2 linked regions of the Homo sapiens genome follow. The protein of the gene in region 1 purifies or fractionates together with the protein of each later gene. This does not show direct contact. Each region holds a gene or a part of one and is shown in the gene's direction. Other genes may lie near its edges.

What was found.
Region 2: the proteins of NEK8 (region 1) and MTR purify together in Homo sapiens (affinity purification with mass spectrometry; one large-scale study listed by BioGRID and IntAct). This does not show direct contact.

The regions. Positions count from the first base shown.
Region 1 is NC_000017.11:28,735,208-28,738,864, forward strand, and holds part of NEK8 (serine/threonine-protein kinase Nek8), read left to right. Parts: intron 1-32; coding exon 33-164; intron 165-2,098; coding exon 2,099-2,307; intron 2,308-2,467; coding exon 2,468-2,529; intron 2,530-2,611; coding exon 2,612-2,793; intron 2,794-2,887; coding exon 2,888-3,038; intron 3,039-3,463; coding exon 3,464-3,540; intron 3,541-3,657. UniProt on the Homo sapiens protein: Required for renal tubular integrity. May regulate local cytoskeletal structure in kidney tubule epithelial cells. May regulate ciliary biogenesis through targeting of proteins to the cilia.
Region 2 is NC_000001.11:236,798,199-236,801,855, forward strand, and holds part of MTR (methionine synthase), read left to right. Parts: intron 1-3,657. UniProt on the Homo sapiens protein: Catalyzes the transfer of a methyl group from methylcob(III)alamin (MeCbl) to homocysteine, yielding enzyme-bound cob(I)alamin and methionine in the cytosol. MeCbl is an active form of cobalamin (vitamin B12) used as a cofactor for methionine biosynthesis.

The DNA.
Region 1 (3,657 bases):
GCAGGGCTGTGATCCCAGCTTCTATCCTGCAGGTGGTGGGTACCCCATGCTATATCTCCCCTGAGCTGTGTGAGGGCAAGCCCTACAACCAGAAGAGTGACATCTGGGCCCTGGGCTGTGTCCTCTACGAGCTGGCCAGCCTCAAGAGGGCTTTCGAGGCTGCGGTGAGTGTATGCACCCTCCAGGGGACAACTGAGAAATCTACTGCCTCGCCCAGCAGCCCTTGGCTCAAGCCACCTCAGGTTTCTCCTCTAGCTGAGTCATGTCTCTCCCTTATCAGATTACCCCAGGGGAGGGCTATGGGTGTCCCTCAGACTATGGATTTCTGAGAGTAGGTCTTGCCTCCCATTAGACGGAGGGCTCCTGAGGGCAGGGCTGTGGCTTTCCCAGAAGACCCTCCCAAGAGCAAGACTTGAGTTTTCCCAGCATGCTGGGGTTTCTGAGGATATAGCTGCAGCTCCCCTATCAGACTAGGGATCACTGAAAGCCAGGTTGGACTCCCCTGTCAGTCTGGGAGTCTCCTCATCAGACTGAAGTCTCCTGAGGGCAAAGCTGTTATTGTTTATTTATTTATTTTTTTTATTATACTTTAAGTTTTAGGGCACATGTACACAACGTGCAGGTTTGATACGTATGTATACATGTGCGATGTTGGTGTGCTGCACCCATTAACTCATCATTTAACATTAGGTATATCTCCTAATGCTATCCCTTCCCCCTCCCCCCACCCCACAACAGGCCCCGGTGTGTGATGTTCCCCTTCCTGTGTCCATGTGTTCTCATTGTTCAATTCCCACCTATGAGTGAGAACATGCGGTGTTTGGTTTTTTGTCCTTGCGATAGTTTGCTGAGAATGATGGTTTCCAGCTCCATCCATGTCCTACAAAGGACATGAACTCATCATTTTTTACGGCTGCATAGTTTTCCATGGTGTGTATGTGCCACGTTTTCTTAATCCATCTATCATTGTTGGACATTTAGGTTGGTTCCAAGTCTTTGCTATTGTGAATAGTGCCACAATAAACATACGTGTGCATGTGTCTTTATAGCAGCATGATTTATAATCCTTTGGGTATACACCCAGTAATGGGATGGCTGGGTCAAATGGTATTTCTAGTTCTAGATCCCTGAGGAATCGCCACACTGACTTCCACAATGGTTGAACTAGTTTACAGTCCCACCAACAGTGTAAAAGTGTTCCTATTTCTCCACATCCTCTCCAGCACTTGTTGTTTCCTGACTTTTTAAAGATCACCATTCTAACTGGTGTGAGATGGTATCTCATTGTGGTTTTGATTTGCATTTCTTGATGGCCAGTGATGATGAGCATTTTTTCATGTGTCTTTTGGCTGCATAAATGTCTTCTTTTGAGAAGTGTCTGTTCATATCCTTCGCCCACTTGTTGATGGGGTTGTTTTTTTCTTGTAAATTTGTTTGAGTTCTTTGTAGATTCTGGATATTAGCCCTTTGTCAGATGAGTAGATTGCAAAAATCTTCTCCCATTCTGTAGGTTGCCTGTTCACTCTGATGGTAGTTTCTTTTGCTGTGCAGAAGCTCTTTAGTTTAATTAGATCCCATTTGTCAATTTTGGCTTTTGTTGCCATTGCTTTTGGTGTTTTAGACATGAAGTCCTTGCCCATGCCTATGTCCTGAATGGTATTGCCTAGGTATTCTTCTAGGGGTTTGATGGTTTTAGGTCTAACATGTAAGTCTTTAGTCCATCTTGAATTAATTTTTGTATAAGGTGTAAGGAAGGGATCCAGTTTCAGCTTTCTACATATGGCTAGCCAGTTTTCCCAGCACCATTTATTAAATAGGGAATCCTTTCCCCATTTCTTGTTTTTCTCAGGTTTGTCAAAGATCAGATAGTTGTAGATGTGTGGCATTATTTCTGAGGGCTCTGTTCTGTTCCATTGGTCTATATCTCTGTTTTGGTACCAGTACCATGCTGTTTTGGTTACTGTAGCCTTGTAGTATAGTTTGAAGTCAGGTAGCATGATGCCTCCAGGCAAAGCTGTTATTATCCCAGGAGACCAGGGGCTGGAGCTGGGGGGTGCTGCCCTCACTTCCCCAAATTCTCAACCTGGTGCCTTCACAGAACTTGCCAGCACTGGTGCTGAAGATCATGAGTGGCACCTTTGCACCTATCTCTGACCGGTACAGCCCTGAGCTTCGCCAGCTGGTCCTGAGTCTACTCAGCCTGGAGCCTGCCCAGCGGCCACCACTCAGCCACATCATGGCACAGCCCCTCTGCATCCGTGCCCTCCTCAACCTCCACACCGACGTGGGCAGTGTCCGCATGCGGAGGCCTGTGCAGGGACAGCGAGCGGTCCTGGGCGGCAGGGTGTGGGCACCCAGTGGGAGCACAGGAGGTCTGAGGCAGAGGGAAACCTGGGGCAAGTCCTCCCTTCCTGCATGTAGGAATGTCAGGAGGGTCTTTGTCCTTAGGCCCCCATCTGTCCTGCAGGGCAGAGAAGTCCGTGGCCCCCAGCAACACAGGGAGCAGGACCACCAGTGTCCGCTGCAGAGGTAAGTGGGAAGAGGCCGCCAGTCCCCATGGATGCCACACCATTCCCATCAGTTTAATAGTCCCCATGCACTGTACCTGCAGGTATCCCCCGGGGACCTGTGAGGCCAGCCATCCCACCACCACTGTCGTCAGTGTATGCCTGGGGTGGTGGGCTGGGCACCCCCCTGCGGCTGCCAATGCTCAACACAGAGGTGGTCCAGGTGGCAGCTGGGCGCACGCAGAAAGCCGGCGTCACGCGCTCTGGGCGTCTCATCCTGTGGGAGGTGAGCAGGCCAGGGGGTGGCCTGGATGGGTGGAGGTGGAGGTCCACAGCAGGGTTGGGGTGCTCAGGCGCTGCCCATCCCCCTGCCCCTGCAGGCCCCACCCCTAGGTGCAGGCGGAGGCAGTCTCCTTCCTGGGGCAGTGGAGCAGCCACAGCCCCAGTTCATCTCGCGTTTCCTGGAGGGCCAGTCGGGTGTGACCATCAAGCACGTGGCCTGTGGGGACTTCTTCACTGCCTGCCTGACTGGTGAGTTGTCGGGCCTACCTTGTGGGACCTGCTCTGAGGCCCCACAGAGCACCTTCTCTCTTCTCTTGCAAAACACGCACTTAATGAATGCTTCTGTCTACTAGTTATCGAGTTATTGCTTCTGTCTAGTAACTATTGAGGAGATTTCCTTATACAACCTCCTTTACCCTACGGACAGGCCTGGCAAGGCAGTTATTATATTATCCTCATTTGACAAGTGGGGACGCTAAGGCTCAGAGAGGGTGTCACTTGTCCAAAGTCACATATGTTTGAAGGGACTCATATCCTTTTCTCTCTTCCTATCCCATCCTTCCAGCCCTGGTCCCCAACTTTATTTTGCTGCTGCAACCCACTGGAGGACCGGGCTATCTGGAAAGACTGTTTAACTTCTTTCCCTTCTCCTTCCTCACTGCCCTTCTCCCCAGACAGAGGCATCATCATGACATTCGGCAGCGGCAGCAATGGGTGCCTAGGCCATGGCAGCCTCACTGACATCAGCCAGGTGGGTGTCACATATACCTTGGGAAGGGGAAGTCGGGGGATGGCGGGGAGCCCACATCTGTGAGTTGACACCAGATTGGGGGCAGGGGAGTTCCCAGCAACCACAGGTTCCTCTAGC
Region 2 (3,657 bases), on another chromosome or scaffold:
ACAGTGGAAAGAGGGGTCCTAAGTAAGTCAGATCTATTTGGGGTCATTTTACCTTCAGAGCAGATGTGTTCTTGACACTGCAATTTATAACTTACATGCACATATTAGGAATTTATTTGTTTAGGCCTTCATCTTGTCATTCTTTAGGCTAGTTCTTAAAGGTGGTACTAGCTGGTCTACCCCCCTCCAAATCTGACTAGGGCTTTAACCACTTATACCTATGTTTATTCTTTGGAACACTTGCTGTGAATCAGAATATTGTTAGCTAGAAAATAAGATGTTAAGGGCACGGAAAAAAACCCCACAAAATATATTGGCTAAATCCACTCAAAACTGGAGAAAATACTGTGTGATCTCTTAGGCTCACTAGCCAAGGATGTTCCTTGGGACTCTCCTCTGCACTGCGGTTATTTACATATATACATTAAACATAAAAATATTTCTGAAATAGTGTTATAACTAGTCAGCTAAGTAAAGGAACTGCAAAACTATATTCTTATATTTACTGTGAAAGATAATCAGAAAGAATCTGCTTTATTTAGAACTTGACTAGTCAGTAGTTAAGTATACAGAATGTTCTAGACCTAATGAACTGAATACAGATAAATACAATTTTGTTGTTCTTCATGGAAGAGTGACATTTCAGTAGATCCCCACTCTGCCAGGGGAAGGAATTGTCAAGGTGACTTATTCTTTTGAGCAAGTTCTGATAGTAATTGGAAACTGGTGAATTAGAATGGTAATTAAAGCCCAGTGAAAAATGACCTCCTACTGGAAAAACTGGAGGAATACAGAAGGCTAAAAATAGTGAACACTTAATACCAACAGATTTTCTGAAGGAAGACTTCTTAGTTTCTCTAAATGGGAAATCTTACATTATCCTCTAAAGGAAAAATAAGCAAGTAGTTGAGGAAACTATGTTTTTTTTTTTCCCCCTTTTTCTTGAGACAGTCTCACTCTGTTGCCCAAGCTGAGGGCAGTGGCGTGATCACGGTTCACTGCAGCCTCGACTTCCCAGGCTCAAGCAGTTTTCTTGCCTCAGCCTTACTAGTAGCTGGGACTACAGGTGCATACTACCAGGCTTGGCTAATTTTTGTTTTTTTTTTTTGTAGAGATGAGGCCACTGTGTTGCCCAGGCTGTTTTCGAACTCGTGGACTCAGTGATCCACCTACTTTGGTCTCCCAAAGTGTTGGGATTACAAGTGTGAACCACCACACCCAGCCCAAGTAATGGATTTTTAAGGGCCTCAGTTGCATAGGAGTTTTTTATTCAGGCTGCAAAATTCCTGTGTTTTATTATATATTCCTTTTTATCTGTATTTTCTATTCACAATTCTCTTGTTTCCATAGACCGCCTTTTTCACATATATCCATATATTTATACATTTTGTTGTAAACTCTAGTCTATAGGTATTTTTAATTCACATTGTATATTACATTCTGGAATGTACAAGGAACTAACACAAATCAATAAGAAAACAAATTAGCTTTAGACATTGAAGAATCTCCCCCAACCCATCGTCTATTATTTTTGTCTATGGTGACTTTCGTTTAACAGAAATCCTTGGTTTTTATGTAATCAAATTCATTGTGTTTTTTTTTTTTAAATTAAGAGGTTGGTCTTTTTGAGTCTTAAGAAGTTCCTTTTCATTCGAAGTCATAAAGTTCTTCCCAATAAATTATACAATAAGTTTGTCAGGTTTCTGAAAAACCAAAGCAGATGTTTTTAAACAGCTTTTGATCTCTTGCCTATACGGTGGCTCAACAAACAAGATGCCAGAATTTGCATGTGTGGGGCTGGGTTGTTTTGTGGTAAATAGTGAACTGTCTTAAAGTCCAAAAACAAAGCTTATTATTTCTGGATTGAAAAGGGAATACAGTAAGGGCCCCATGGAAAAGTACTAAGACTTTTTATGAAAATGAGGGGTGGAGGCACTCTGAGTGGTTAGATTTGCTCAACTTGTGTGCACTCGCTCAGTGGAGGAGATAGGAAGAAGGACATGTAAATAATAGGATATTGATTGATATTGATTAATCATTTTGCCGATGCCAAAGGACATACTTCACTGTCTGTGGAAAAGATTGCCTTTTTCTCCCTAGGAAGTTTGAATACCTTTTAAATATGAAATTTCATGTGCATGACCTATTTCCCCACTGCCACACCTCATGCTCACACTAGGCTTATGATTCAGTCACCCACTTAAGTTCACGTGATGTCATTTCAGGGAGAATTGCAGCTACATCCTTTTGAGAAGAAAGCGATTCAGCTGGGCATGTAGGTTAGAGTCTTTAGTTCTTAGTCTTCTCATTCCTCCTGTGAAATTATCTACATTTAACAGCTTTCACTGAGTATTTTCTTCTTTCACTCGACTGTTAGAAGACATTTCCCAACCTGCAAATATGCCATTCCTGCCCCAACATGACCAACTGAGAGCTTCAGGCTTTACATGATTTTTCACAGCCCACTGAGCTTTGTAATATATAGAACACAATCTTTAGAGCTTCAGTCCTTGCTGTGCTATAATACCAACATAATAAGAGTAGCTAATATTTATCAGATGTTTACTATACATCAAACACCAATGTCTCATTTCATGACTTGTGTGACTTAAGAGGTCCAGTTCTTAACACATGGTCTCATTTTAGTATCACAGTTCTGATGATGAAGGCAGGGCTGATGTTTCCTCATCTTGCTGAAGCATGGAGAGGACTTGTCTAAAATCCCATAGCTACTAAGGGGAGCTGGGGCTAAAACCCAGATTTCTTGGGTTTTCACACCCTGCTACTATTAGCTTAAGCCTATCAAATTCTGAGTGCTTATTGGCTGATAGGATAGTCACATCATGGAGTGCCTAAATTAACACTACATGTGAATTTACCGTGTCGACTATAGCTTGAAATGGCGCCCACTGCCTGATGCCTACCAGTCTTTCTATTATACATGCTTCATTAAGCCCTACCTTTTCTCCACATTTCCCAAGAAGTGATTTTCTTTGGTTCTTGAAGTACTTTTGTACAGATCATTGGAGCTTAACTTCGTTCCTTTATCAGGAAGTGTTTTATCTCACCTGCAAGTTCAGTAAACACAATTAGCAAGTGAGGTGGCTTTGGAAAGGAATAGTACACCCTGAAAGAAACATAGTGCCCAGAAACTAGATATTGGATATTGCAAATTTTTCTTTTAGGTTACTAGAGCCACCTTCCTGAAGCCCACTTGGAGAAAGTCACTCAAAATAGTTCTGTGACCACCATTTAGCCCCAGTTCTCATATTGTATACTTGAGACTCTGGACAGTAAGACGAGGCAGGGTTGTAAGTTTGCACCCAATACCAGCTTACAAATATTCTTACATTACTGGTTTGGGTTTTAAATTATCTTTGCCTCTTCTTTCTCATCTTCCCTCACTTTTTTGTCATTTCAATTAAAGAAATATTTGCCAAGTACTGACCTTAGTGTTGCTAGGCATGAGTTCCAAGGAGCTCAGATAGCTTAGAACCAGCCCCATTTGACTTGAGCTTTTCTCGCCTCTTAGCACAGAAGGAATGGGTTGGCGTCATTATGGTTTGTTTTGAGTAACATGTATTCAGTCTGATATGCTATAGGGAGTTGTTGAAGGTGTTTGAGCAGGGGAAGCAACTGGTTTAAAATTGTTGTATA